Homo sapiens: one gene and its partners. Each later gene encodes a partner of the first gene's protein in a complex. Each region holds a gene or a part of one and is shown in the gene's direction. Other genes may lie near its edges. The genes, in order: BMP2, NOG, BMPR1A and RGMB.

Evidence for each region.
Region 2: the proteins of BMP2 (region 1) and NOG are in contact, whole or in part, in a crystal structure (PDB 7AG0), measured with the Homo sapiens proteins. Residues at the interface, in NP_001191.1 of Homo sapiens: Trp310, Asp312, Trp313, Val315, Ala316, Pro317, Pro318, Gly319, Tyr320, Ala368, Ile369, Ser370, Met371, Leu372, Tyr373, Lys379, Val380, Val381, Leu382, Lys383, Asn384, Tyr385, Gln386, Met388; in NP_005441.1 of Homo sapiens: Ile33 (codon at 4,995), Arg34 (codon at 4,998), Pro35 (codon at 5,001), Ala36 (codon at 5,004), Pro37 (codon at 5,007), Ser38 (codon at 5,010), Asp39 (codon at 5,013), Asn40 (codon at 5,016), Pro42 (codon at 5,022), Leu43 (codon at 5,025), Val44 (codon at 5,028), Asp45 (codon at 5,031), Leu46 (codon at 5,034), Ile47 (codon at 5,037), His49 (codon at 5,043), His199 (codon at 5,493), Arg204 (codon at 5,508), Arg206 (codon at 5,514), Pro219 (codon at 5,553), Ile220 (codon at 5,556), Gln221 (codon at 5,559), Tyr222 (codon at 5,562), Pro223 (codon at 5,565).
Region 3: the proteins of BMP2 (region 1) and BMPR1A are in contact, whole or in part, in a crystal structure (PDB 2QJ9), measured with the Homo sapiens proteins. Residues at the interface, in NP_001191.1 of Homo sapiens: Lys297, Pro330, Phe331, Pro332, Leu333, Ala334, Asp335, His336, Ser339, Asn341, Ile344, Val345, Leu348, Asn350, Ser351, Val352, Asn353, Ser354; in NP_001393490.1 of Homo sapiens: His66, Cys67, Pro68, Asp69, Ile77, Thr78, Asn79, Phe83, Ile85, Cys100, Met101, Lys102, Glu104, Gly105, Phe108, Gln109, Asp112, Arg120, Ile122.
Region 4: the proteins of BMP2 (region 1) and RGMB are in contact, whole or in part, in a crystal structure (PDB 4UI2), measured with the Homo sapiens proteins. Residues at the interface, in NP_001191.1 of Homo sapiens: Val308, Gly309, Trp310, Trp313, Met371, Tyr373, Leu374, Asp375, Glu376, Tyr385, Met388; in NP_001353437.1 of Homo sapiens: Lys97, Arg100, Gly101, Leu103, His106, Ser107, Leu110.

Annotation. Positions count from the first base shown.
Region 1 is NC_000020.11:6,762,606-6,770,859, forward strand, and holds the start of BMP2 (bone morphogenetic protein 2 preproprotein), read left to right. Parts: upstream 1-5,080; 5' UTR 5,081-6,270; intron 6,271-7,514; 5' UTR 7,515-7,521; coding exon 7,522-7,867; intron 7,868-8,254. UniProt on the Homo sapiens protein: Growth factor of the TGF-beta superfamily that plays essential roles in many developmental processes, including cardiogenesis, neurogenesis, and osteogenesis. Induces cartilage and bone formation.
Region 2 is NC_000017.11:56,589,326-56,596,305, forward strand, and holds NOG (noggin precursor), read left to right. Parts: upstream 1-4,373; 5' UTR 4,374-4,898; coding exon 4,899-5,597; 3' UTR 5,598-6,286; downstream 6,287-6,980. UniProt on the Homo sapiens protein: Inhibitor of bone morphogenetic proteins (BMP) signaling which is required for growth and patterning of the neural tube and somite. Essential for cartilage morphogenesis and joint formation.
Region 3 is NC_000010.11:86,885,402-86,892,697, forward strand, and holds part of BMPR1A (bone morphogenetic protein receptor type-1A isoform 3 precursor), read left to right. Parts: intron 1-4,660; coding exon 4,661-4,823; intron 4,824-6,725; coding exon 6,726-6,828; intron 6,829-7,296. UniProt on the Homo sapiens protein: On ligand binding, forms a receptor complex consisting of two type II and two type I transmembrane serine/threonine kinases.
Region 4 is NC_000005.10:98,790,367-98,796,994, forward strand, and holds the end of RGMB (repulsive guidance molecule B isoform 1 precursor), read left to right. Parts: intron 1-2,718; coding exon 2,719-3,387; 3' UTR 3,388-6,128; downstream 6,129-6,628. UniProt on the Homo sapiens protein: Member of the repulsive guidance molecule (RGM) family that contributes to the patterning of the developing nervous system. Acts as a bone morphogenetic protein (BMP) coreceptor that potentiates BMP signaling. Promotes neuronal adhesion.

The DNA of each region.
Region 1 (8,254 bases):
GGCTTTGAGTTGTTACCACTGTATAGAATTGAGAGACCATAAGCATAGTGGGGAAAAAAGCCCCAAACTCCCAAAACATGAGTCTAGTGTAAGCTATGCCATTTGCTAGCCATGTGGCTTTGGAAAAATGACTTAACCTTTCCAAGCACAGTTTCTTCACCTGTAAAATAAGGGTAGTGACATTCACTGAGCAAGGTTTTTGTTCCACATTTCAGAAGTGAGTTGCTCTTCATTAAACCTGAAGCAATTGTTTCTCAACTCCCTTAAAGTTCTTATCTCATATGCCATATATTTTATATGTATTTACCCGTAAACATGTTGCATTTCTTCCATTGAATTCTAAGTAAATTATGTGCAGAGATTATGTACTTTTGTATTAACTGGAGCCCAATAACATAGTGCCGTGGGCTTTGTAGTTGCTCAATAAATATTTGTAGACTGTATGTAAAAGGAAATACTATAGTTGACTCTTCACAGTCTATTTAACAGAAAGTCAAAACATTTTAATATCATTGACAAGGTATGCAAATGTATTAGTATATGATAATTAAATAATATGTAGTGGATATTTAAAACAATCGTACTTGGCCAATTTGGCCTGGCTTAGGCTTTGCATATAAATTACCCCACTCCACTCATCCTTCCTATTATGTCTAATCAAATGCAAAATAGGTAAACATTTGAATGACTAAATGCTGCTCTTTTGCTGTGGCTCCCGGGGTTCCCATGAAAGAATTTCATGGAGGTAAAGTAATCAGAACCGGTATTGGGTGTTGCACTAGTAACAAAGTGTTACTCATGCTAAAAAGCCAACAGGCTTCTCAGGGGAGTCTTATTTTGAAGACTATAATCATTTTCCAGAAGCATGTGCTCATTCAACCCATATTTTTGAAATCTACCAAGTGCAAAAGAAAATCACATAAGATAAACTCACATCTTTCGAGAACCAGAACCGATGGCCTTAATTTGCATGTATATAGTAATACAAATTTGCAACCTTTTGTTGTCTTCACACATATCTTCTCATTTATTCTTCACAACCTCCATGAGAAGTCAACTGTTAGTCTCTATAGAGTATTCATGAGGGAGCCGAGGCTATGAGAATTTGTTACTGCCATAGATCAGAGGTCCCCAACCCCCGGGCCATGAATAGTACTTGTCCATGGCCTGTTAGGAACCCCCAGGGGCAGGTGAGGGAGCATTACTGCCTGAGCTCTGCCTCCTGTCAGATCAGCAGCAGCATTAGATTCTCATAGGAGCTCAAACCCTACTGTGAACTGCATGTATGAGGGATCTAGGTTGCATGCTCCTTATGAGAACCTAACTAATGCCTGACGATCTGACGTGGAACCGTTTCATCCTGAAACCATCACCCCCAACCTGGTCTGTAGAAAAATTTTCCTCCACAAAACTGGTCCCTGGTGCCAAAATGGTTGGGGACCTCTGCTTTAGATTGACTGACCCAACTGGTGGCCTTTCTGATGAAATATCCACTGTTTGGCAATATAATAAAAGCTGGGAGAAGAGAAGGAGAAGGAGGAGAAAGAGGAGGAGAAGAAAGGCATCCAAAGTCCTATTTCTTAAAACCAGGCCATATTGCAGACAGAAGGCCAAAGAATACATTTGAAGATACATAGAGTGAGTAGCAATCAGAAACTAAGTTCACACATGTTATCCATTTGACCTTCATCATGTCAGTCTGAAGCAAGCAAACATATATTTATTTACCCCAATTAACAGATGAAATGACCATTTTAAAGTCAGTCATCCATGACAGAACCAGGAATTAGAACCCAGGTCACCCAACTACATCTTAGAGTGTTATCAACATAGTTTACAGACATAACTTAAGGTGTACATCTTAAACTGTGTGACAGTCTAATCAATGCACAAAATTCATTCTTTTTAATTTTTAAGAAGATGTAGTTGGTACTTGCTGAAAGCAGTGATCCTGATTTGGCCAACTTGGCCTAGTTTCTGATATAAATCACTCCACCTCTCCCATCCTTTCTACCATGTCTAATCAAACACCAAAAAGGAAAACATTTGATTGACTAAATGCTTCTCTTTTGCCTTGGCTCCAAGTTCCTGTAAAAAAAACTTCATCCAGGTAAAGTAAGTAGGGATGGTTATGGGTGTCACCCTTGTAACAAAGCGATATGTATGCTAAAAAGCAAAGAGGGTTTCTCAGGGCAGTTGCCACAGGTTTCCATGGAATGACAATTACAAGGTAGATGGATCACGTAATGCCTGCTGTGAACTTTACAATACATGGGGATCACTATTTTAATGTTGATTTGCATAATGTTTGGCCTAGCAAGAACAATACTGAATGCTAATAGCTACAGAATGCAATAAAATGGAATATCATGTGAGCTGAAGTGCTAAAATTGCTAAAGTATGACTGTAAGCAGTTAATTTCATCCCGAGTCTTGTCCACACACAATCAAATGCAAATTTCCACTATCTCCTGAGAAACTGCCAAGAGATGACTGAAATGGAATAGCAACAACCTCCTTTATGTGGAATCATTATCTGGTCATCTTTGCTTTTTTACATAACTTGTCTGTACCCTCTGATGCATTTGAATTTGCAACTTCTACTATCCCTATCTTAAACAACTCCCCACTCCCACCTCTGCCCCTTCCACATTTGCTGGCAGATGCACTAAGTCTGATAAACTCAGCAAGACTGAATCTCACCCTCTGAACTGAAAAACTTTGAATGGACCTTTGAAAACGGTAGAATTGACAATGGTTAGCTGCAAGTGATATTTTCAAGGCAAACAGACACTCTCCCAAAGTATTAAATAACCCAGCATTCTAAGTTGCAGGTGGAAGGTAGCCATTAGTGAAGAGAGAGAAAAAAAAAAGAAATAGCTCGTCTGTATTTAGATTTATCATTTCTGACTATTGCTCTTCCCTGGAAAACGGGTAGGTACAGTCATCCTGTACTTCGATCCCAAATCAGTCTCTGGAGACTACTTATTTATTTATTTATTTATTTATGGACTTCTTTCTTTCAAGCGTTCGAACTCATTTCCACCACAAGAGGGCAGCCATCTCTAAAAAAAAAAAAATAGGGCCAAAATTTATGTAAGTTGTGCTTGGAACAAGCATTCAGTAGTTCCTCAGAAATCATACACCCTACATAAAAGAGATTCTGCAATGGGCAGCACTAACATGAAACAGTGTTCAGAAGTACCCATTTTCCCTCAGATTCTAAACTGACAAGGTTTCCACTTACCAGGTTATGAAGTTCTAAAGCTGCAAGACATCCTTGAGGTCATCACAGGATATTTATTTATTTTTTCTTCGGGTGCATCCAATAGTTATCAACTTTTCCTCCTCTTTAAAAGCTACTTAAATCTCATTGAAGTTTTGTTTTGTTTTGTTTTTGAAATCTAAGTAATGAGAGAAACAATTGTTAACTTCTCAATTAAACTTGATAGGAAAGGAAATAATTTCAGAAGCCCTGTGTCCATGAGTAGGATATGTTTTATTGCCTCCTTGTTTGCGGTGCAATGACTCTGAGTGACAATCAACTTCTATAGCACCTTTTTTTTTTTTTTCAGGAAATAAAGTAGCATGTTCCTGAATAATTCCCCCACCCCCTTTTATTTTCCTGGTAGTCAGGCTTCCTCCAAAATACCTTATTTGACCTTTATACCTTTAGAAACAGCAAGTGCCTAATTCGCCTCTGTGGGTTGCTAATCCGATTTACGTGAGCGGAACCTAGTATTATTTTAGCTCCCCTACCGAAAAAATAATACACATGGATAATAGTTCTATTACCAGCTCCTGCTTCTGACTTTTTTCTCTCTGTTTCGCAGGCCCGATAGCTCTGGGAAAGCAGAACTTGGCCTTTTCCAAAAATTTTCTGCCCTTGGTTTTGGGGATCATTTGGGCAAGCCCGAGGTGCTGTGCATGGGGGCTCCTGGAATCCTGGGAAGGGCAGAAAGCCTTGGCCCCAGACTCATCGTGCAGCAGCTCTGAGCAGTATTTCGGCTGAGGAGTGACTTCAGTGAATATTCAGCTGAGGAGTGACTTGGCCACGTGTCACAGCCCTACTTCTTGGGGGCCTGGTGGAAGAGGGTGGCGTAGAAGGTTCCAAGGTCCCAAACTGGAATTGTCCTGTATGCTTGGTTCACACAGTGCGTTATTTTACCTTCCTCTGAGCTGCTAATCGCCTGCCTCTGAGCTGGGTGAGATAAATATCACAAGGCACAAAGTGATTGTACAATAAAAAAATCAAATCCCTCCCATCCATCCTTCAGTCTGCCACACACGCAGTCTACGTTACACACATGTCACGTAAAGCAGGATGACATCCATGTCACATACATAGACATATTAACCGAAATGTGGCCCTTCGGTTGCATATATTCTCATACATGAATATATTTATAGAAATATATGCACATATTTTTGTATATTGGATATATTTATGTAACTATAAATTTACATGCGTATGGATATGAAAATAAATGCATACACATTTATGTAAAAAAATTTGTACACATGCATTTACATATGTAAATACATACATCTCTATGTATTAATGTTTAAAAACACTCAATTTCCAGCCTGCTGTTTTCTTTTAATTTTCCTCCTATTCCGGGGAAACAGAAGCGTGGATCCCACGTCTATGCTATGCCAAAATACGCTGTAATTGAGGTGTTTTGTTTTGTTTTGTTTTTTGAAATCGTATATTACCGAAAAACTTCAAACTGAAAGTTGAATAACGGGCCCAGCGGGGAAATAAGAGGCCAGACCCTGACCCTGCATTTGTCCTGGATTTCGCCTCCAGAGTCCCCGCGAGGGTCCGGCGCGCCAGCTGATCTCTCCTTTGAGAGCAGGGAGTGGAGGCGCGAGCGCCCCCCTTGGCGGCCGCGCGCCCCCGCCCTCCGCCCCACCCCGCCGCGGCTGCCCGGGCGCGCCGTCCACACCCCTGCGCGCAGCTCCCGCCCGCTCGGGGATCCCCGGCGAGCCGCGCCGCGAAGGGGGAGGTGTTCGGCCGCGGCCGGGAGGGAGCCGGCAGGCGGCGTCCCCTTTAAAAGCCGCGAGCGCCGCGCCACGGCGCCGCCGCCGCCGTCGCCGCCGCCGGAGTCCTCGCCCCGCCGCGCTGCGCCCGGCTCGCGCTGCGCTAGTCGCTCCGCTTCCCACACCCCGCCGGGGACTGGCAGCCGCCGCCGCACATCTGCCGCCACAGCCTCCGCCGGCTACCCGAACGTTCTCGGGGCCAGCGCCGAGTGGATCACCGGGGACCGCGAGGCACCCGCGCGCCGCAGACCCCGCGCGGGCTGGAGCACCCGGCAGAGCGCGCCACAGCGCCGTGGCCTCTGCTGCCCGGGCTGCGCCAGAGCCGCGGACGGGCGCGCAGAGCGCCGGGGACTCCGGAGCCGATCCCTAGCGCCGCGATGCGGAGCACCTACTGCAGGAGATCGGGGGCCTGGGACGCGCTGGCCGAGGTGTGATCGGACCCCAGGCTAGCCACAAAGGGCACTTGGCCCCAGGGCTAGGAGAGCGAGGGGAGAGCACAGCCACCCGCCTCGGCGGCCCGGGACTCGGCTCGACTCGCCGGAGAATGCGCCCGAGGACGACGGGGCGCCAGAGCCGCGGTGCTTTCAACTGGCGAGCGCGAATGGGGGTGCACTGGAGTAAGGCAGAGTGATGCGGGGGGGCAACTCGCCTGGCACCGAGATCGCCGCCGTGCCCTTCCCTGGACCCGGCGTCGCCCAGGATGGCTGCCCCGAGCCATGGGCCGCGGCGGAGCTAGCGCGGAGCGCCCGACCCTCGACCCCCGAGTCCCGGAGCCGGCCCCGCGCGGGGCCACGCGTCCCTCGGGCGCTGGTTCCTAAGGAGGACGACAGCACCAGCTTCTCCTTTCTCCCTTCCCTTCCCTGCCCCGCACTCCTCCCCCTGCTCGCTGTTGTTGTGTGTCAGCACTTGGCTGGGGACTTCTTGAACTTGCAGGGAGAATAACTTGCGCACCCCACTTTGCGCCGGTGCCTTTGCCCCAGCGGAGCCTGCTTCGCCATCTCCGAGCCCCACCGCCCCTCCACTCCTCGGCCTTGCCCGACACTGAGACGCTGTTCCCAGCGTGAAAAGAGAGACTGCGCGGCCGGCACCCGGGAGAAGGAGGAGGCAAAGAAAAGGAACGGACATTCGGTCCTTGCGCCAGGTCCTTTGACCAGAGTTTTTCCATGTGGACGCTCTTTCAATGGACGTGTCCCCGCGTGCTTCTTAGACGGACTGCGGTCTCCTAAAGGTAGAGGACGCGGGCCAGGGCCCGGGGTGGGTGGTGGGTGGGAGGGGGATTTGGGCAGCCACTGCGGTAGAGCCCTTCCTTACGTCCAGGCCAGAAGTAAACAGACCCCTCTCCAGTCCACGTGCAACGGAGCCCTGCAGGGGCTCCCACTTCCAGCTGCCCCGGGCGACCGTAAGCCTCACCCTCCCGGCCCGCACTCTTCCACCCCTCTTTCTTCCCCTCTCCCTGGAATACTTTTGGAGCTGTTAACACTTAGATGAGGTGTTTTATTTATTTATTTATTTATTTTTAATTTTTTTAAAAACTTTTTTGGGTCAAAGAAATCCCTTTGAGAGGGTAGCCCCTGGGTTTCACCCGTTAGCTGAGAACCTGTCCGCTCTGCCATGGTGATCTCCATTCTTCAAGTGTTTCCGGGAGACTTGGTTTCTTTGCTCAGAGCCGTGTCCCATTTAGGAAAGTACTAGGAGTTTGGGGTTCTCCCTACTTGTTTCCAGAAATGCGAGGGGTCAGTACTGAAGGATCACTTGGTACTGTGTTTTTAACAGCTGACACGTGCATTAATAGATATTCACCATTTACGTAATCCCGGGAAGATACATGTGTATCTTGACTGCACTGTGGGGATGCGGGATGGAGCTGCCTTTCGAGACACCCCTGAGGGTAGGGGCCTGGGACACAAGTCATAAGTGGCTTCAGAAGTTGTGGCCTTGAGCTTACAGGGTCTGGAAGCTATAAGGGTGTGTGTGTGTGTGTGTGTGTGTGTGTGTGTGTGTCAGGAAGTTCTATACAGTGCCTCTAAGGAAGTCACATGCACCATTTATGTGTGTTTATATGCCAGACAGCGCTCAGCACTCCGCATTTGGGTTTGTATAGGGGACGCAGGGTGTCAGATCAAGCGGTGGTTTTCCCAGGTTCCCGGCATTGGCTGTCAGCGCTGTGTCACACACAAAAAAGTGACAGTCATTGGCGCTGGTTTGGTTGGGGGGGAGGGCAAATCCCAAATCTGATGTCAGACGAGCTAAGCGTTGGATGGGAGCGATAAATCATCTGGTTCAGGAACTTGGGACCCTTCATTATCCCAAACGTTTGAGCTTCGGTCGGTCTTACCTAGACTCGTGAGTGTGCCAAGCCAGGAGGGCATCCTGGAGGAGGCACGCCAGCCAAATGGGAGACCGGGCCGCGGGGGCGCGAGGGGGGAGGACTGGGCGGGGAACTCGGGTGACTCACGTCGGTCCTGTCCGCAGGTCGACCATGGTGGCCGGGACCCGCTGTCTTCTAGCGTTGCTGCTTCCCCAGGTCCTCCTGGGCGGCGCGGCTGGCCTCGTTCCGGAGCTGGGCCGCAGGAAGTTCGCGGCGGCGTCGTCGGGCCGCCCCTCATCCCAGCCCTCTGACGAGGTCCTGAGCGAGTTCGAGTTGCGGCTGCTCAGCATGTTCGGCCTGAAACAGAGACCCACCCCCAGCAGGGACGCCGTGGTGCCCCCCTACATGCTAGACCTGTATCGCAGGCACTCAGGTCAGCCGGGCTCACCCGCCCCAGACCACCGGTTGGAGAGGGCAGCCAGCCGAGCCAACACTGTGCGCAGCTTCCACCATGAAGGTGAGGCATGGAGCAGGGCGTGGGGGCGGGGAGTCACCCTGCAAAGCCCTCCACCGTGGGCAGACTGCAGCCGTCCCTGTAGAGGCAGCTTGGCCGGGGCACCAGCGGACGTTTCCACTCTTGCTTCTGTACTATCGTTTCTGAATCTGATTTTAACTCACTGCTTGTGTGGTGGGGGAGCCAGGGATTCCCCTTTAGTAACTCCGCACCCTCTTCCTGGCTTGCAGCCAGAAGAGCTACTCCTCCTGGAAGAATTGGAGAGAAATCAAGTGATGGGGAAGATGAGGGCAAAAGGCATGCCTCTAGTCAGCTAAACGTGCAAGAATTCCACAGAGGGAAAAGGAGAAAAAGGGAGGCAGATTGAGATTTCTTTAAGTCTGTTTGGAA
Region 2 (6,980 bases), on another chromosome or scaffold:
TTAGGCGTCACCCACAGTTGCCTTAGGTCTATGTTTCCAGGGCCAAAGAAGCAAGAAGATTGTCAAGTTGTTCTTCGAATCATGATAGAAATAAGAGAAGATACATAAAAGCACCCTCAGGCTCCTCTTGCCTTTGACCTGGAGTTGCCCCAGCGACTGTTTAAAGGAGTGCTTCCATTTACCTTGCCCAGAGAATTTTGCAGGGACAGAAACCTGGGATGGGGCTACCCAGGGACAGGCCTCCATTTATGTTGTTCATTAACTCTTCCTATGTAGCCTCCTGAGGCCTAAGTCCCCAACCAAGCCCCACTACAGTCCAAGCACCGCCCACAGCGAGAGTCAAGCTGATAGCCGTACTTCCATTGGCCCATCTTCCGCCCACAGCTTCCTTTGCAAGAAATACAACCCTCTTTGTCCAGTTTTGTCAAGCTCCCTCTTCAACAGAACCACAGAAGCATCAAAATGGGTTGACTACAGAATCTCCTAAGAAACTACAGTCCTCCCTCCCTCAAACTCCTGAAGCCTGGCAGCCCTCAAGTTGCACAGATGGAGTGGACAGAAAGCAAGTCCAAAGGTGTTGGAGTTGATTTCAGCAGCATCCTCACCCCTTCAACCCTCTTCTGCTCAAACCTGAGATGGTTGGCCAGTTGAGGGCAGTGGGGTTCTCTGAAGAAGTAACGTGTTGTAAAACCATTGCCCGATATAGGCTCTGCCCCAGGCACCTTACTAGGCTAGGCATTCCTTACCTCTTTTACGTGGCATGATTCTGAGAGGTGTGTATCATCCCCATCTTACAGATGAGAGAATGGAAACGGGGTGGTTAAGATGACTGTTTTAAAAAGGTAACACAGCCGGTGAGGGGCACAGCCAGAATTCCAACTTAAATCCACCTGGTCCAAAAGTCGTGGTGCTTCCCTGTCTGGGACATTTCCTCTTCCACCTCTCATATCCCCAGATTTTCTGGCTGTCCCTCATACAAGTGTGGTTCCCTTCTTCATGTAGATGTATATCCTATCTCTCAAATCTCTTCCTCTCCATACTCAGATAAATACATCCTTCTTCATGAAGCTCAGCTAAAATTCAGCTCTACCATTAAGGTCTTAGTACTTCCTAGTCTCTGATACCAACATCCCCAGGTTCACTCAGTACCTAAGCGCATGGGCTACTCCAGTGTGGCACAGAGTTAGGAGTTGCAAGCTTCCCAAATGTGGCATTTCAGAACTTCACATTGAAGAGGGGTAGATATGGTTTGAAAACAGTATAGCTAACATAATTGCTTGGGCTTCTTTTTGGTTATAATAATGTATTTTAAAAACTTTAAACAACATTCAAAGAAGAGCATGATATTGTTATATCTATCAAAAGGGGACATGGATTTTAAAAAGAAAAGGTTATAAAAAACTAGTCCACACTGTTATGGGAATTTATAAATTTTTCTGATGTCCTTTTACTATTTCTTCTTGTGGTTGTCATATCTCCCCTAACTGTACTACAAAAGTCTTGCAGGATGGAGACTGACTATGAATTTTTTCTTCTTTGTATTTTTCCTGATGGTCTTCACCCAGTAGATACTCCATAAACAGGTCACCCAATCTGTTCTCAAGCATGATTTGTTTCTGGTTCCTGAGGGACCTTTTTTGCTGTTCAGTCAAATCTGCTCAGCCCAACTAAATAAAGGATCTGGGTTGGTTTTCAAGCAAAAATAGGTGATTTGAAGGAGAGAAGAGGGGGATTAAAAGAACAGAAACCAGCATGATATAATGTCATTAATTGGAACCTACCATCTCAGGAGGGCTGAGCTAGAGTTTAGCCCTTGAACTCCACTAAATAATTTTCTTAGTTAATTCACATCAGTGACAAAATTGCTCTGGAACATGTAATCTTCATAAGGAAACAAACTAGTGCTGAATCCCCATAAAGCACATAAAAAAGAAAGAGGTATGCTTAGGAGCCTACTATGTGCTAGGTTCTTTTTTTGGAGGGGGAGGAGTTGGGGAGGTGGGAACAGAGTCTCACTCTGTTATTCAGGCTGGAGTACAGTGGTGCAATCTCAACTCACTGCAACCTTTGCCTCCCAGGTTCAAGTGATTCTCGTGCCTCGGCCTCCCAAGTACTTGGGATTACAGGAGCCTGCCACCACGCCCAGCTAATTTTTTTTTTTTTTTTTTTTTTTTGTATTTTTAGTAGAGACAGGGTTTCAGCATGTTGGGCAGGCTGGTTTCCAACTCCTGACCTCAAGTGATCCGCCTGCCTCAGCCTCCCAAAGTGCTGGTATTACAGGCATGAGCCACCGTGCCCGGCCTGTACCAGGTTCTAATCACACATTATTTCAAAGTCAGCCCAATTCAAACAACCAATGGGTTGTTGTTAACTCCAGTATCCATCAAAGCAAGATCTCCTTTTGAGCAGTCCCTTGATAGTCTAATTCTAGTTGTCTAGACTTTAAAATTGAGGGAAACGCTTTCAGCGGAAACTGCCCACCCCTTTTAATAGAGGTTTTGCAGAAAGACTGTAGTATGCAACAAAGTGTTTTCTTCCTTAGACAGATGATAAACTTTGGGAGTTGGGGTGGGGCAGGTTGAAAGGAAAAACCAGATCTTTGGGGAAAGAAAGTTAAGCGATTTAGGTTGTCACAATGGGACCTCTTAACTCCCACTCCATGGAAGACTGGCAAATACTTGAGTCATCCACTCCAAGTCTCTCTTCTCCAGCTTTTTCCAGATTCCAATCACATTCACCACAAAGAAAACTGAGTTTGCATTTTAAAGCTGAGATTGAGTTCCTCGTCCAAGGGGAAATTAACCGGAGGTGTCCCTTCAGTACCCATCTCCCATCAAAGAGAAACTGCTTCTGAACAAGAGAAAGCATCGTGGAGGTTTATTTAAAATCACAGAAAGGTAGGGCTGGAAGAGAAATCTATTAATAGTTACGTCACTAATGCGAAAAGTGAGAAAAATGACTTGTCCGAGTTATATCAGGGTGGACCCCGGGCAAGACTCAGGTGCCTCTGCTGTCAGCTCACCTTTCAAGTTTCTGGTCCCCACTCGCACCCACTGAGACCAGAGACCGATTTACCTGAGGCAGAAGGTGCTGCACGCATTCTTGTGAAATTTGAGGGGACCGAGAAGGAATCTCAGGAAGTTTGTTTACACTGGGGGCCTGGAGACCTTCGGGAAAATAGCCAGAACCAAAACGGACCAGTCAGCAGACGCAGACACACACAAAGTGACAGGGACACAGAAGCAGAAGCTGAACTGGGCAGAGCGGGCAGCGGCCGACCCACCTCGCACGGCCGCCCCCGCCAGCGCCAGGTGCAGGGCTCATAGCGGGCCAGCAGAGGGCGCGCCGCCCCCAGGGAGCCGAGCGGCGGCCGCGCGGAGCCGGGCGGGCTAGGGGAGCCGCAGGCGAGCCAGTCGCGCCCCTGAGGCTAGGCCACTCAGGGTGCAGGACCCGGCCAAGGAGGAGGAGGATGGTGAGGAGCGGAACCCCCTCGTGGGCCCGAGGGGCAGACAGACAGGAGTGCTTCCTAAGAATTACATCACGCTGCGCAACGCTGCGGCTCTCGGACTCCCTGGTGCAAAGGGGGGTGGGGTAGGGGCTGTGTGTGTGTGTGTGTGTGTGTGTGTATATATGTGTGTTGGGGGGAGGGGACTTAGAGCAAGAGCCCGGGAGAGAAGAAGACGCGCTCGGGGAAAACGCTCCATGCACATGGAGAAATTTCTTGCTCCGAACTGCATGCACCGAGAAACGAGCCCCCAGCACTTCCCCGCTGCTCCCCTCCCAGTGCAAAGCACCCAGCTAGTGAGAAACCCTCCAGCCCCACCTCAAGCACCGCCCCCCCTCCCCAAACACCGGCTCTGCACCCTCCAGCCCGGCTCCAGCGCCGCCGCGAGCTTTCCCCAGGACTGGCCCTGGCGGGGCGCCTAGAGCCCCAGTTGCATTGCTCCAGGAGAAAGGAGGGGGGCGGTGCATTTTGCAGGAGGAGGAGAAGGGGGGTGGGTGGTGGGGGAGAGAGAAAATTGCGCGGAGACCTGCCAAGCGCCACCGCCGCCGCCACCGCCGCTGCCGCCGCCGCCGCCGCCGCCTGTGAGCTCCGGCGGGCAGCCGGACTGTCGGCTTCCCGGGGCATCTGGGTCCGGCGGGGCACAGCCCTGGGCGCTGCCGAAGCCGCCGCCGCCGCCTCCGCGGCGAGTACAGGCGGCTTCCCCCGGAGCCTGTGCAGCTCCAGCTCCTCGGGGGTGGAGAAGTGGGGGGTGGGGTTGTTGTTTGGGGGGAAGAAGGGGGAGGGGGCAACGCCGAGAGAGTCAGTGGTTTCCATGGTGATGGAGCTGAAAGTGCAGGAAATTTAAAGGCTTGGACCCTGCGAGACAGACAAACCGGTGCCAACGTGCGCGGACGCCGCCGCCGCCGCCGCCGCTGGAGTCCGCCGGGCAGAGCCGGCCGCGGAGCCCGGAGCAGGCGGAGGGAAGTGCCCCTAGAACCAGCTCAGCCAGCGGCGCTTGCACAGAGCGGCCGGACGAAGAGCAGCGAGAGGAGGAGGGGAGAGCGGCTCGTCCACGCGCCCTGCGCCGCCGCCGGCCCGGGAAGGCAGCGAGGAGCCGGCGCCTCCCGCGCCCCGCGGTCGCCCTGGAGTAATTTCGGATGCCCAGCCGCGGCCGCCTTCCCCAGTAGACCCGGGAGAGGAGTTGCGGCCAACTTGTGTGCCTTTCTTCCGCCCCGGTGGGAGCCGGCGCTGCGCGAAGGGCTCTCCCGGCGGCTCATGCTGCCGGCCCTGCGCCTGCCCAGCCTCGGGTGAGCCGCCTCCGGAGAGACGGGGGAGCGCGGCGGCGCCGCGGGCTCGGCGTGCTCTCCTCCGGGGACGCGGGACGAAGCAGCAGCCCCGGGCGCGCGCCAGAGGCATGGAGCGCTGCCCCAGCCTAGGGGTCACCCTCTACGCCCTGGTGGTGGTCCTGGGGCTGCGGGCGACACCGGCCGGCGGCCAGCACTATCTCCACATCCGCCCGGCACCCAGCGACAACCTGCCCCTGGTGGACCTCATCGAACACCCAGACCCTATCTTTGACCCCAAGGAAAAGGATCTGAACGAGACGCTGCTGCGCTCGCTGCTCGGGGGCCACTACGACCCAGGCTTCATGGCCACCTCGCCCCCCGAGGACCGGCCCGGCGGGGGCGGGGGTGCAGCTGGGGGCGCGGAGGACCTGGCGGAGCTGGACCAGCTGCTGCGGCAGCGGCCGTCGGGGGCCATGCCGAGCGAGATCAAAGGGCTAGAGTTCTCCGAGGGCTTGGCCCAGGGCAAGAAGCAGCGCCTAAGCAAGAAGCTGCGGAGGAAGTTACAGATGTGGCTGTGGTCGCAGACATTCTGCCCCGTGCTGTACGCGTGGAACGACCTGGGCAGCCGCTTTTGGCCGCGCTACGTGAAGGTGGGCAGCTGCTTCAGTAAGCGCTCGTGCTCCGTGCCCGAGGGCATGGTGTGCAAGCCGTCCAAGTCCGTGCACCTCACGGTGCTGCGGTGGCGCTGTCAGCGGCGCGGGGGCCAGCGCTGCGGCTGGATTCCCATCCAGTACCCCATCATTTCCGAGTGCAAGTGCTCGTGCTAGAACTCGGGGGCCCCCTGCCCGCACCCGGACACTTGATCGATCCCCACCGACGCCCCCTGCACCGCCTCCAACCAGTTCCACCACCCTCTAGCGAGGGTTTTCAATGAACTTTTTTTTTTTTTTTTTTTTTTTTTTCTGGGCTACAGAGACCTAGCTTTCTGGTTCCTGTAATGCACTGTTTAACTGTGTAGGAATGTATATGTGTGTGTATATACGGTCCCAGTTTTAATTTACTTATTAAAAGGTCAGTATTATACGTTAAAAGTTACCGGCTTCTACTGTATTTTTAAAAAAAAGTAAGCAAAAGAAAAAAAAAAGAACAGAGAAAAGAGAGACTTATTCTGGTTGTTGCTAATAATGTTAACCTGCTATTTATATTCCAGTGCCCTTCGCATGGCGAAGCAGGGGGGAAAAGTTATTTTTTTCTTGAAGTACAAAGAGACGGGGGAACTTTTGTAGAGGACTTTTTAAAAGCTATTTTCCATTCTTCGGAAAGTGTTTTGGTTTTCCTTGGACCTCGAAGAAGCTATAGAGTTCAATGTTATTTTACAGTTATTGTAAATATAGAGAACAAATGGAATGACTAATCATTGTAAATTAAGAGTATCTGCTATTTATTCTTTATAATATCCCGTGTAGTAAATGAGAAAGAAGTGCAGAGCAGGATTAAAGAAAACCACTAAAACCGACTGCGCTCCACACTGATTTTCTGTGTTGGTGATTGATGGGGGTGGGAGGGCGTGGGAGGGGGCGGGTAGGGGATGCTGCTGTGCCTCCTACCCCGTTGGGGAAGGGGCTCATCCCCTCGGACTCCCCTCCTGTGGTATGATGGAGGTGACTTAGTTTTTTGAGGGCGTTGGGGGGGGGGGCGATATTCTCTAACCCCTCACTAAAACATCACGTGGCCTCCGCCTAGTCTCCTAGCTTTTCCCCCTATGTCACCAAAGCTCGGGCCTGTAGTGACCTCGACACCCAGCCGGCCCCCTGGAGCTGACCCCAGGCTGGGCCGAGGGGCGGGGGGAGGGTGGGCGGCCGCTTTGTCCTGCCTGACAGGCCCTTCACAATGGGGACACGTGTCTTTCACACCTACCCTGGGGGCGGAGTGCCGCTGAAACTTGACCCCCGAGGAATGGGGAGGGGGGGAGATCAGAGCGCGCCCACCCAGATCCCGCCACCCCTCCCGCCTCGTACCCCCCACCTCAATATCCAGCCCATGTTAACCCTTTGCATGCCCGGAAGCTACGGTGGTACGAACTGAGGCAATCCCTTGGAATCAACAAGGCTCACAGCCTCCGGGATCTTGCAGGTCCGAGCCCCGAAATCCCAGGCCCTCGGCCGGAGGTGCTGGGGATATCAGGGAGATTTGACACTGGCCTCCCCTCT
Region 3 (7,296 bases), on another chromosome or scaffold:
CACAAAACCAATACCTGTTTTCTATATCTCTGCTGTCTTGTGTGATAGCTACTAGCCAAATGTGGCTTTTGAGCACTTGAGTTGTGACTAGTGTGGGTGAGAAACTGATTTTTAATTTTACTTCATTTTAATTCGTCTACATTTTAAGTCACATGTGGCTAGTGGCTACCATATGGGACAGCACAGTTGTAGACATGCCACCTTTTCCCTAGTTCTTGCTTCCTTGTACTTGACTTTCCTTCTGCTGATGTCTTCCTGGTTTCTATTTAATTAATGATGCAGACTGTTGTTGCAGAATTCATTAGGCTACCATTGCTGATTATCTCATATGTATAGTGCATCAGTAGCCCATTGGTCTCACCAACCGTTTGCCATCTGAGTTCTGTTGTAGACATTCTATCTTAAGGTTGCGGCAGAGGGCATTTATTTGCTGTAGAAAAAGGAAGCCAATAAATTATTGGGAAAATATGAAAAATTACTTAGCCAGGAATAAAAATCTAGTAAAATCATTGATGCCAAAAATTGCTGTTGATGACAAGGACCTGTAAATGTGCCTGTGTATGGTCATGTGTCTCTTGTAACTGTTTGTCTCTTTGTATGTATATGTTTTCATTTTTTCCTGAGATGTTATACTTAAACATGTAAGCTATTAAATATTTTGTGTGTGTTTGTTTTGAAATATAACCTATACCCCCAGTCCACCCCAGGGCTCGTAGTTTATTCTTTGTAAATACACGGGACTTGTGGGTGGCGAGAGATTGACATGTTCAGAACTGACAGAAGGCCATGTGCCAAGTAAAGTGATGATGGTGAGGCCTGCAGGACCCAGATCCTGTTGGGCCCTGGGAGCACACAGTGGAGGTTGGATTTTATTCTGAGTGCATTGTGGAGCCATTGATTGGTTTTATATAGGAGTGACAGATTTGTGTTTATAAAATGTCTCTGGCTGCTCTGTGGAAAATGGATTGCAGGGACCAAGAGCAGAAGCAGAGGGAACAGTTGGAGACTTCTTACCTTAGTAGAGGCATGATGTGATGGGCCTTGGTGACAACAGCGGAGTTGGAGAAAAATGAAAACAATTGACATACATTTTGGAGGTTGAGCCAAAAGACTTTGGTAAGACCAGGTTTGAGGCAAATCAAGAGTTCATTTAAGACAAGTCAGTCAGGAGATGTCTAAGCAGGTCATGGCTAGAGGGGGTACATCCAGGAACCATCAACAGAGTGGGCGCTGTCCCCTAGGGAGAGCACAGAGAGGCTCTTTCCTGTTACTTTTCTTTGTATTCAATATCTGCTTGGTGAAATCTTGCAAGTTTTTAAGATGTAGCTTAGATTTCATTACTTTTGACACCTAAGATCAGTTTGAGTTTGACACCTAGGATGAGCCTTTTCCTTTGTTTACATGTAAACACCTCCGTATTTTGTCACTTTTTTTTTTTTTTTTTTTTGAGATGGATTTTCGCTCTTGTCGCCCAGGCTGAAGTGCAATGGCTTGATCTCTGTTCACTGCAACCTCCACCTCCCAGGTCAAGTGATTGTCCTGCCTCAGCCACCTGAATACTGGGATTACAGGCGCCTTGCCACCACGCCCAGCTAATTTTTTAATATTTTTAGTAGAGACGGGGTTTCACCATGTTGACCAGGCTGGTCTTGAACTCCTGACCTCAGGTGATGTGCCCACTTTGGCCTCCCAAAGTGCTGGGATTACAGGCGTGAGCCACCGCGCCTGGCCTTTGTATTTTGTCACTTTTCACATTGTATTTATTTGCTTTTGTGCTTATTCCCCCTCTGCTTTCCACCAAGTTTCTCAAGGCCACATATGTGGTTTTGATGCCACATCTTTGCGTTTCTAGCATTTAATACCTTGCCTGCACATAATAGACCCCTACTAAGTATTCTGTTGAATATTTGGCAATAACATAAGCTCCAGATACAACTACTGTAATTGAGTTTTTTGTCTCATGAATTCAAATAGTATTCTAGGAAGTTTCATATAACTTTGAGTTTTTTCATGTATCAGTGATCTTTTAGTGTTCTGATCTTTGTTATTAGTAACATCTTCATTTGTATACTATTTTACATGTAGTTAAGCACTTTAGTAAATATTCATTTGATCTACCTATAACCTCTTGATTTGAATTAGGCAGGAATTATTATCCCCATTTTCTATAGATAGCTGAGGTTCAGAGAGTAACTTATCTGTGCCCGTAACTGCGACTTGAACCCTTCACTTCTTGCTGTTATCTCAAGTGATATTTCTGCCACACTAAACTGCTTTTTCTGTGTCACTAGATTTTTGAAAAATCAGTTGCTGTGATATATTATATACTGTTTGTTTTCCAGAGCTGAATTGATACGTGTCTTCTGTTAATGTAATAGGATTTTAAAGCTGGTCAGGTTCCCTCACCTGTCCTCTAGTCCTGTAGCCTTATAGAGTAAATGAAGCCTGGAAAGGTGACATGGCTTGCCCAAGACCATCCAGCTAGGTAAAGCGGGGTAGGCCCATGGCAAAACAGAATCCCAGTCTCCTCATTTCCTGCTCAGTGGATTTCTTCCCTTCCTGTACCTCCTGCTTCCCCCACCCCATCTTTTACAGTTGATGTTTCTAACATAAAGGAGGTCTTTCCGCTTTGTAGCAATCAGATCCAACGGAAGCCTTGACATTATATTACGGAATTTATTTCTGAAAGGAGAGTGGTGTGGGGGGCGCGGGGATGAGTAATATATGTATGTACACAAACTTCCAGCTTTTTTTTTTTTTTTTTAAGTGTTTTCTCTCCTGGCCGGGCACGGTGGCTCATGCCTGTAATCCCAGCACTTTGGGAGACTGAGGCAAGTGGATCACTTGAGGTCAGGAGTTTGAGACCAGCCTGGCCAACATGGTGAAACCCTGTCTCTACCAACAAAATACAAAAAAATTAGCTAGGCGTTGTGTGGGGTGCCTGTAATCCCAGCTACTCGGGAGTCTGAGGCAGGAGAATTGCTTGAACCTGGGAGGCGGAGGTTGCAGTGAGTCGAGATTGCACCAGTGCACTCCAGCTTGGGTGACAGAGTGAGACTCTATCTCAAATAAAAATGTTCTCTATACTCATTCAGTAGCAAATTCTTTTACTAAATATTCGGTATAAGAAAGTGAAGGTTATTGGCCAGGCATAGTGGCTCACGGCTATATTCCCAGCACTTCGGGAGGCTGAGGCGGGAGGATCGCTTGAGCCCAGGAGTTCAAGACCAACCTGAGCAGTATAGGGAGACCTTGTCCCTACAAAGAATTTAAAAATTAGCCGGGCATGGTGGCATGTGCCCTTGGTCCCAGCTACTCCAGAGGCTGAGGTGGGAGGATCACTTGAGCCTGGGAGGTTGAGGCTGCAGTGAGCTCTGATCACATCACTGTACTCCAGCCTGGGCAATAGCGTGAGACCATGTCTCAAAAAAAAAAAAAAAAAAAGTGAAAATTATTGAAACTGAAGGCATGTAATCATCAAAACACTATTTAGCAGCACTTTTTCTGTTACCTGTGTGTGCATATGTGATATTTTTTGTCTTTTCAGTAGTTTATCTCATCAGTATGGTAAATGTAAAATCAAGTCTGTGTTGTGTCTTGAACCACTTATTTAACATTCATAATGAAATACATATACACTTGTCTGTTTGGTTCCACCTTTCATTCCCTTGAGAGTAACCCACAAAGAATGGCCTAGCTGAGTCAGAGAGAGGAAGTAATTACTAGAACAGTTTTTTTAGTTCCGTTCTGCTTCCAGCCTGAAAGATTTAGTACCAAATATGACAGTATCTGTCACTGCAGGCTGCTAGACTCTAGTGTAAGAACATAGTTCTATTTCTGTGAGCTAACTGCTGCCCTTCTATAACCTTCAGTTTCTGCCAGCATCGTCTGCATTCAAACCAATGACCTCGAGGTGAAAATCTCCAGATAACATGATTGGTCCCCATGCTCTCATGATTTCCTTACTTAAGCAATTAAAGGCCAAAGCAAGATGCTTAGTAACTCCTTTTCCACATAGAGGCACAAATAAAGGAAAGCTGGTCACAAGTTTTGAACCAAAGAGTTAAAAGAAGAATCATAACTTGTCTCTATTTAATGATTGGAAACTCTCACAGACTTCTGTGAAGTCTCTCCCCCTTTTGTACCTTTCTTACAAGTGATGACTATATACTTTTACCTGGCAGGGGAGAGACCACGGTCACGAAGGTGGTTTTCCCAGGGCGAGGCTTATTCATTGCACTCCAGATGTGCTGACCCCTGCGATTTCCCCAAATGTGGGAAACTCAACTGCATAATTGTGGTGGTGGGGGACTGCGTTCATGCTTTTCCCTGGTTAAATTAAAAAATTTTTAAGTTATTTTAAAAATATAAAAAACAAGATTTGACTGTATTCTGCCTTGCGCCACTCTTGTTTGTCTTTCACTAGTGCAAAAATTGTGATATAGCTGTCTTCATGTACCCCGCAATACCTGGTGCAGTAATTCTGTGCATAATAATGTATGTCTGTTTGTTGTATGAATGAAATTTATATTTCTAAAGAAACATGCTAGCTACAATTATTGTGATAAGAAAGCTTAACAACTTTTTCTCATTGAAAATTGTCACGAAACAATGAGCTTTTCAGAAATGATTTACTTACAAATTCCATATTTGAATGCAGGACAGAATCTGGATAGTATGCTTCATGGCACTGGGATGAAATCAGACTCCGACCAGAAAAAGTCAGAAAATGGAGTAACCTTAGCACCAGAGGATACCTTGCCTTTTTTAAAGTGCTATTGCTCAGGGCACTGTCCAGATGATGCTATTAATAACACATGCATGTAAGTATTTTATGCAGCCCTTCTTAAGAGTTAGGAGAATAGAGTTGCATTTAGTGCTATTTTAAGAATTATTAAACTTGTCTGCGGTTTTTTTTTCATTCATATATAGTATCTTTCCAGAAAGCCAAAAAGCCTTTTGTTTTGTATATTAGAACATTATTCCATTAAATGATTGATAGGTGAGTTACTATATTAGAATTATGTTATAATGCAGCTTTTAAAATAAGATCAAAGGGATCTAGTATTTAACATCTGAGTTTTTAATGATCTTTTAATCTTAAATTTATTGATGCTCATTTTAGAAAACTTAGAGGTTACCAAAAAAGAAATCAGAAAACTCACTGACAACCTCCTACTTCTTTTTAATTTAAAAAAAAATTTTTTTTTTAACTATAGACAGGATCTTGCTATGTTGCCCAGGCTGGTCTCAAACTCCTGGGCTCAAGCAGTCCTTCCACCTCAGCCTCCCAAAGTGCTGGGATTACTAGGGTGAGCTGCCACACCTGGCCTCCTACTTCTTAATTAGTTGAAATATTTTGCAGATATATATAAATCATATTGTGTTAATTAATTTTATGCTTTTTTCTTACCTGTGAATTTACCAATCCAAATCTGATTTATAAAATGATTTTAATTTTTCTAGTGTATTTCGTGTTAGCTGCACAACATGTTTATATATGATCATGTAATTCTAGTCCATATTTGTTGGAAACATTGACATATTGACTTAATAAGACCAAAAAAAATTGCCTGAACAACTCAACCTCATCAGTCAATTAATTGTCTCCTTGTTATAGAGGCAATAATGAATGTCATGTTTTATACTTTTAATAATTGTATGTTCCCTGAATGGACCAGATAGAAAGCATGAAACTTTACACGTAAACTCTTGAACCTGCATGACGGTCATCGTGTCTTAGGTTTGCTGCTTGTCCCCTGGTGGTGGTGGGCTCTGCGTGGCTGACTGTGACTAGTTGTTCATTTTTACCTTGGTGAGAGTTTGCCAGCAGGGAACTGCTCTCTGCTATGTCACCAAATAATGTTTTGCTAAACTTCTTGTCTGTAGTACCTGCCTGATGTAATGGGCTGTCTGTTAGTAGCTTAGTAACCCAGAGTAAAACTGAATCATCCATTTTAACAGAATTCTGCCCCACACTTAACATTTTCTCCTAACAGAAAACCAAGAATTCTGCAAAATTCTTCTAAGTAGAAGCAGCACAATTCCTGATATTAACAATAAATAGGAGTACAGAAAAAGCTTTTAGAAATTTCTCCCATACCTGTTAAAGTCTATATGAATATATTAAGGGGAAACTCCAGGATGCTAACACTAAAATAAGAATTTCATTATATATGTATGTAAATTTATTGAAAATTTATTCAAAAGTCCTCTCCCTGTTTTCCCATCATATTCAGTAAAAGGTGCCTTTTAGTCCCCTTTTTTTTGGTCATTAAGCCTATTTGTATGTTTCAGAGAAAAGTTTGTTTTTATCTATTATCATATACAATATGGAAGTACTGAAAAAATGGGTAAAAAGAGACAAAGTTATTTTAAAGTATGTTTTCAAAACATGACATAAAATTTTATAAATCAGCTTTCTGTGATCACATGACTGATTAGCAAAGAGAAGTCACATAACTCCTATGTGGAGGACTTGTTTAATTGAAATCCTTTTCTTCTTGACAAAGGGTTGTCACTGGCCTTTTAGATCTTGGCTCAGACATAACTTTCATTTGTCTTAAAACCTCTGGCGTTGCCAATAAATCACGTGTGAATGCAATTCTAAGTCACAAAACAAAGTATTAAAGGCCATCTGTACCTGTTCACATTCAGACTCAAATTTCGTTAGTACTTTCTATGTGAATTTATGTTTTGTTTTGTTTTGTTTTTTTCTGTTTTAGAACTAATGGACATTGCTTTGCCATCATAGAAGAAGATGACCAGGGAGAAACCACATTAGCTTCAGGGTGTATGAAATATGAAGGATCTGATTTTCAGTGCAAAGTAAGATATAATTTGGGACCCATGAGACAAAGAAGGGAGGGGCCATATGAAAGCATCGATTTCCCCCAGGAGAAACATGCCTGGTGTACACATCGCTGTATGTTCACATCAGTAAATATATTGGAGGAATACCTACTGTCTAGATTCTGTCCTGTATTCATATGTAGAATTTATAACTAAATCATTTCTGAAAAGCTAATTGTTTGATTACAATTTCCTTTTTTATTTCCATAGACAGCACCTGGCTCTGTTGCCCAGGCTGGAGTGCAGTGCTGCGATCTCCGCTCACTGCAACCTCAAGCCAGCCTCCTGCCTCAGCCTTCTGAATAGCTGAGACTACAGGTGCATGCCACTATACCTGGCTAATTTTTGTATTTTTTGTAGAGACAAGGTTTTACCATGTTGCCCAGGCTGGTCTCAAACTCCTGGGCTCAAGCAGTCTGCCCGCATCGGCCCGCAAAGTGCTGG
Region 4 (6,628 bases), on another chromosome or scaffold:
ACTTGTCTCACAGCAAATCACTACTAGTAAATTGGAAAGACAAATCTTTTAGGTTAACTAGGATATTTTGTAGGTGTAGATACTAGAGCAGAAAACAAGTTTTGAGCTTCTAGATAGGTAGGAGTTATTGTTAATGTCACTGGCATAGCAGAGGACAATACTGTGGGAGGTGTTTGAAATGAATCCTGAGTTCCTGAGTTGGAATTGGTGTGCTTAATGAAAAAAACAGCCGTGGTGAGACATATGGAACCATTCCACTCATCTCAATATGGACCCTTGCTTGCTTTTTGGAAACTTGTTTGGAATCGGTTATCTTTGCTTTGTTGGCCCAACACAAGTAAATCCTCTTTGTTTTTCCTAAGGTGAACAAAAAAGTAGTTCTTGCAGATAATATCAAGTTGGTTTAAATTTTAGGTTTGTTAGACTAGAAAGACGAATTATTTAGCCGTCATTGAAGAGTTTAATCTTTGAGTAGATGTTACAGGTGAAAATGAGCATAGTGATTATATAAAAAGTCTATTACTAACTCTTATTTTAGCCATCTGTATTGTTGACTTTCAACTTTTTCAGGTGCAAAATTTTCTTGAATCAATCTTTTCATCTCCAAGGGATCCCAGCATGCCTTAAAAAAAAACACTTGTCAACGGATTTTAGAGCCACCAAATAAATCTATTTTATGGTCCCGTTAGATATCTAGCTCAAAACCCCCATTCACTCTGAAAGGTCCTATGGTTGGATGCACAACAAATTTCCTGAAATCATCTCTGATGCACCTCCTTTGGGTTGTTAAGAAGGTGTTGAAATGTGAGAAGGCTGGTAGTGAAATCAAGTTGTGGCTCAGGGTAATTAGGAAGGGAGAAAACCCAGCATTTTCATAGTACATTGTCTGGCTTTTAGTTGCAGCTGCACACAGCGGATATGAATTTAACCGGTTGCTACAGTGCAGCTGGTTCAGATCTGGCTTTATAACTGGCTGAAGTAAAATGAAATGGCTGGAAAATTCCAGTCAAGTAACACCAGTGGGAACAAGTGGAATTAAATAGTGTGAGCAAATGCTGGCCGAGTTGGAGAAAAACTTAAGACATAAACTTGAGGGTGGTGGTGAGGACTTCGGGTGGGCAGGCGGGGGGAGGGGGGTGCATTTTCTGGTCTTTTTCACAAGGGTCTATTGTTTCGATTAGTTTCCTTGCAGGAGGTAGAAGGTTTCCTCCATCCCGAGTAATTCATAGAGTGTTTGGCTTGTCTACCTTCCTCCTGACTGAAGTCACCTGATACTTTTTGTTTTTTCAAGAAGGAAGAGAGAACCCTGTTGCCTCAGTTACTAGCAATGATACAATTCTCAAAATCTGGTCTTTTTTTGTTTCTTTGAAATAGTTTCTCCATGTTGTGTGACACAGCAGCCCCTGTCTTATCATAGTTGTCTTCCCTCCACCACCTGTACCAGAGATGTTGGATATGTTGGAGGTGAAGGTGTGCAAGGTTTTTAACTAACTGTTCTAATTAAAGGATTCTGCAGGAAAGAACATGGGTTTACAAAAGAGAAGCTTTTGTATTATTAGTAATTTTTTTTCTTTGATGAATTTATGTGCTTAGTTTGGAGAATCGAGAGTTGGCTGGGAAAAGATTTCTGAGGAGTTAAGGGACTCTGGTGCTGTTTGGGAAAACATTTGCTGTAACTAGGTTTAGGGTATTCAGTCTCTGCCAGTGCTTAGGAGCTATATTTGCCAGGTGATTTCCCTGTCGCAGGGATTAGCCAGTGATGTGAAACATTTGATTAAGGGACTAATAGAAATCTTTCCTGGGGTACATGAGTGGTGGCTGTTACTGGGGTGCCCCCTCCTCAACTCTTTCTCTCTGTATTTCGAGTAAGTTTGTAGTGGTGAGTCATGGGATACAGTTTTTTAATCCTATGAAGAATCTTGGTAGGAAGCAAAGTTCTGTTAGGTATATTGTTAATTAAGCCCTTTAAAGTTTCTGCATAATAACTCAGAAACGAGCCTTTTTCTTTTCTCAGAACTATGCCATGACTCATCCACTTTGGAAGCAGACAAGATATAAATTATCAATAAAAATTGCCCATAATCTGGCCTGGCACAGTGGCTCATGCCTGTAATCCCAGCACTTTGGGAGATGATGGTGGGAGGATCGCTTGAGGCCAGGAGTTCAAGACCAGCCTGGGCAACGTAGTGAGGAACCCCCGACCTCCACCATCCCCCCCGCCCCCCACCAACCCCCTCACTTCAAAGTTTTTTAAATCAGCCACGCATGGTGGTATATGCCCTTAGTCCTGTGTACTCAGGAGGCTGAAGTGGGAAAGTCCTTTGAGCCCAGGAGTTGAACGTTGCAGTGAGCTATGAATGTGCCACCGCACTCTAGCCTGGGCAAGAGAGCTGACCCTGTCACTTAAAAAAAAAAAAAAAAAAAAACCGATATTCTGATAGCAACACTGCTCACTTGCTCACTCTTTCTCTTAGGAAAGTAAAAAAGTTTTGTCTTGATGCACAGATTTATTTAAACTTTAGTTCTAAATATATAGGACTTTAAAAAATATTTTCTGAAAGTGATATCCATTTTTGAGGTGCAAGCAGTTGGGTCCATTTTGGAGATTCCGCCTTAAGCCATTCAGCTTCAAAATGGCGGGGAGCTCTTGCTACAGAGGGTTACCCCGTTCTGCTTCCTTCCCATTCTGTTAAACCTTGTACATGCTCCTTCCCACAGATCACTATTATCTTCAAAGCCCACCATGAGTGTACAGATCAGAAAGTCTACCAAGCTGTGACAGATGACCTGCCGGCCGCCTTTGTGGATGGCACCACCAGTGGTGGGGACAGCGATGCCAAGAGCCTGCGTATCGTGGAAAGGGAGAGTGGCCACTATGTGGAGATGCACGCCCGCTATATAGGGACCACAGTGTTTGTGCGGCAGGTGGGTCGCTACCTGACCCTTGCCATCCGTATGCCTGAAGACCTGGCCATGTCCTACGAGGAGAGCCAGGACCTGCAGCTGTGCGTGAACGGCTGCCCCCTGAGTGAACGCATCGATGACGGGCAGGGCCAGGTGTCTGCCATCCTGGGACACAGCCTGCCTCGCACCTCCTTGGTGCAGGCCTGGCCTGGCTACACACTGGAGACTGCCAACACTCAATGCCATGAGAAGATGCCAGTGAAGGACATCTATTTCCAGTCCTGTGTCTTCGACCTGCTCACCACTGGTGATGCCAACTTTACTGCCGCAGCCCACAGTGCCTTGGAGGATGTGGAGGCCCTGCACCCAAGGAAGGAACGCTGGCACATTTTCCCCAGCAGTGGCAATGGGACTCCCCGTGGAGGCAGTGATTTGTCTGTCAGTCTAGGACTCACCTGCTTGATCCTTATCGTGTTTTTGTAGGGGTTGTCTTTTGTTTTGGTTTTTTATTTTTTGTCTATAACAAAATTTTAAAATATATATTGTCATAATATATTGAGTAAAAGAGTATATATGTATATACCATGTATATGACAGGATGTTTGTCCTGGGACACCCACCAGATTGTACATACTGTGTTTGGCTGTTTTCACATATGTTGGATGTAGTGTTCTTTGATTGTATCAATTTTGTTTTGCAGTTCTGTGAAATGTTTTATAATGTCCCTGCCCAGGGACCTGTTAGAAAGCACTTTATTTTTTATATATTAAATATTTATGTGTGTGCTTGGTTGATATGTATAGTACATATACACAGACATCCATATGCAGCGTTTCCTTTGAAGGTGACCAGTTGTTTGTAGCTATTCTTGGCTGTACCTTCCTGCCCTTTCCCATTGCTACTGATTTGCCACGGTGTGCAGCTTTTACTCGCCACCTTCCGGTGGAGCTGCCTCGTTCCTTTGAACTATGCCCTCACCCTTCTGCCCTCACTTGATTTGAAAGGGTCGTTAACTCTCCCTTACAGGTGCTTTGACTCTTAAACGCTGATCTTAAGAAGCTCTCTTCATCTAAGAGCTGTTACTTTTTCAGAAGGGGGGGTATTATTGGTATTCTGATTACTCTCAATTCTAATTGTTATATATTTGAGCCCATACAGTGTATTAGGTTGAACCATAGAAACTGCTATTCTCGTAGGTCAAAAGGGTCTAGTGATGGAAGTTTTGTAGATAAGTACCAGGCATCTCAGTAACTCCTAGACTTTTTCTCATCCCATGCCCCGTTTTAAATTGTCAGTTTTCCCTCTGACTCTTCTGTGTTAAAACATGAAACTATAAATTTAGTAATTATCATGCCTTGCTCTTTTTAATCTATATGACTGATGCAAGCCCCTCTTCTTAACCGTTTCTTGGCTTTGAGCCCAGAAACACAGCTCTCCCTGTCTCCAACTCCAGTAAGCCCTCCTCAGCCTCACCTTACGAATCCAAAGAACTGGGGTTTGTTAGGTTCTTTCTCTAATGTAGAGGCCCAGATCCCATCACAAAGTTTTTCATTCTTCCTTGTCCACCATGATCTTCATCACAGTCTTTGATATGTCTGCATGCAAAGTGGAACAGAGTTGGGCGGCAATGACAGAAGAGCTTCCTTGGCCTGACTCGGTGTGCGGCCACTTCGGCACTGCTTAATCCAGATATTCTTGTTAACTAAGCATTGTGCTTCCCAGGTGGTCTGAAGTCAGGTACTCTCTCTCTCAACACCTGTAGTTGAATATGATTTGGTCAGTTGCTCGTTGTAACTTGGAGAAATTCCTATAAAGTAAGATCTCCTTGCCTCTTCCATCCATTGTTGGCACCCCCTTGCAAAAGGAAAAGAACAGCAAAAGTCAGGAGCAGTAATCTGAGAAAGTTAACTCCAGGATAGGTAGGTTTCTATTGTTATAGCTAGATGTAAATCTTTAGTTCCAAGAAGTGATAGAGTTTCTGCTTTAATAATTTGTTGATAAGTTTACATAAACAGAAATAAAAGATACTATCTTTACCGTAGTAGTTCAGGCCAAGATTATGCTTAGTTTTAGTTCTCCAGGTAGTTACTTTTGCCATGTCCTATTGATCAGTGACACTGCCAGAGGCCCATACCGGCAAGAGGAAGAGGACGTCATTTTGTAAAGTTTAACTTCTTAGCGAACTGATGTGCCACCCAGTCACAGAGTGGAGTTGTGAATTCATGTAGAGGTGGCAAACCTCTACCTTGTGTTGATGAGAGAATAATCTTGGGCAGTCTGGGAAAATAAGGAAGGCATCTCCTTCTTACTCATGGAGATTCAACTATAGAGAGTTGAAACCTAAACCCGCCTTCCTTTTATAGAAGCTGGACTAGAGACGGACTGACCATCAGCTCTGAACTGTGGCTTTTTTTGTTCACCTATGATGCCATGTACCAAATTCAGAAGCTATCGTTAATAATTTGTTTTATAATTGAGTAGTACAAGCGAGGAAAAAATACGGAGGATAACCACTATTTTTGTGCAAATAATATGAAAGTGAAGTAAAAGCAATAGAAGAAATTTCTATAGGATCTGGGTTTAGAGTGTGTATCATTAATAAATATACCTTTGCTCTTTTCAGGGAAAATAACAACCACCCTTACTGATAGTTGGGAAAAGAAGATTGGGTTATTTTGCCATATCATTTAGCTGGAAGTGACATTTAAAAGCACCCTGCATCACTAGTAATAGTGTATTTTGCTATTCTGCCCTTGTAATCGGTGTCCCTGTAAAACAATCCCCACAGATTACTTTCAGAAATAGATGTATTTCTCTACGTAAGGGCCAGGTTTATTTTCTCCTTTTTTGAGATTTCTAGAAAAAATGCTGCTTGCACATGTTGGTTCTTGAAACCTTAGCTAGAAGAATTTCAGGTCATACCAACATGTGGATAGGCTATAGCTGTTCAGAGGTCTCCTGGGGGAGCTTAAAACGGGGGAAACACTGGTTTTCACAGATGCTCCACATGGCTGTCTTTAAAAGACTCAAAACTTTTTTTTGTCCTCTTTGTTATGCTTGGAAGCTCCCCCCCCCCCAACAGTGTGTCGAGTCTTTGCAAAGAAACCTTTAGATGTGGTTCATAGATATATGAATACGTATCTGTGTAAAACAGTGAGTGTGCAGTGTGTAAATACTTTAAATTATTATGCTAGAAAAATAAAGTTACATACCTTGCTGTGGAATGTCTGTTCTGTGATTATAGGGACACCTGCTGGAAGAACTGAGAGCTGCAGAAGAAAGGGAGTCGGGGGAGGGGGAATTGTATAAAATCCCTAAAGGTTACTGATAAGTCATGCCACCTGCCCACAAATTCGCTGATTTTCAAAACTATAGCATTACTGTCATTTTTTTTCTTTTGAAATTTTAAGCAGTTACAAATCCGTATCAGTGAGATTGGTCCACTAGTATTGTCCCAAAGTTCTGTCTTTAGTAACAGTTTTGGTCCCTTGAAGACATACAGCCTGCACTCTAGTTCTTTTTAAGGTGATGTGAACAGTAACGACTTCCTCCTGGTGGGGAGGATTTGGGAAGGCAGGATTTTCTGGCTTTGAAAACAAATCCTCACTTCTTGGGTTTTAAAAAGAGACATCAAGAGATCACAAGTTGGTCTTTGTTCAAGAAACACACCAAAGGGTAGAAAAGTTAGGAAAATAACTGAAACAAAAGGCACAGAGAAGCACTG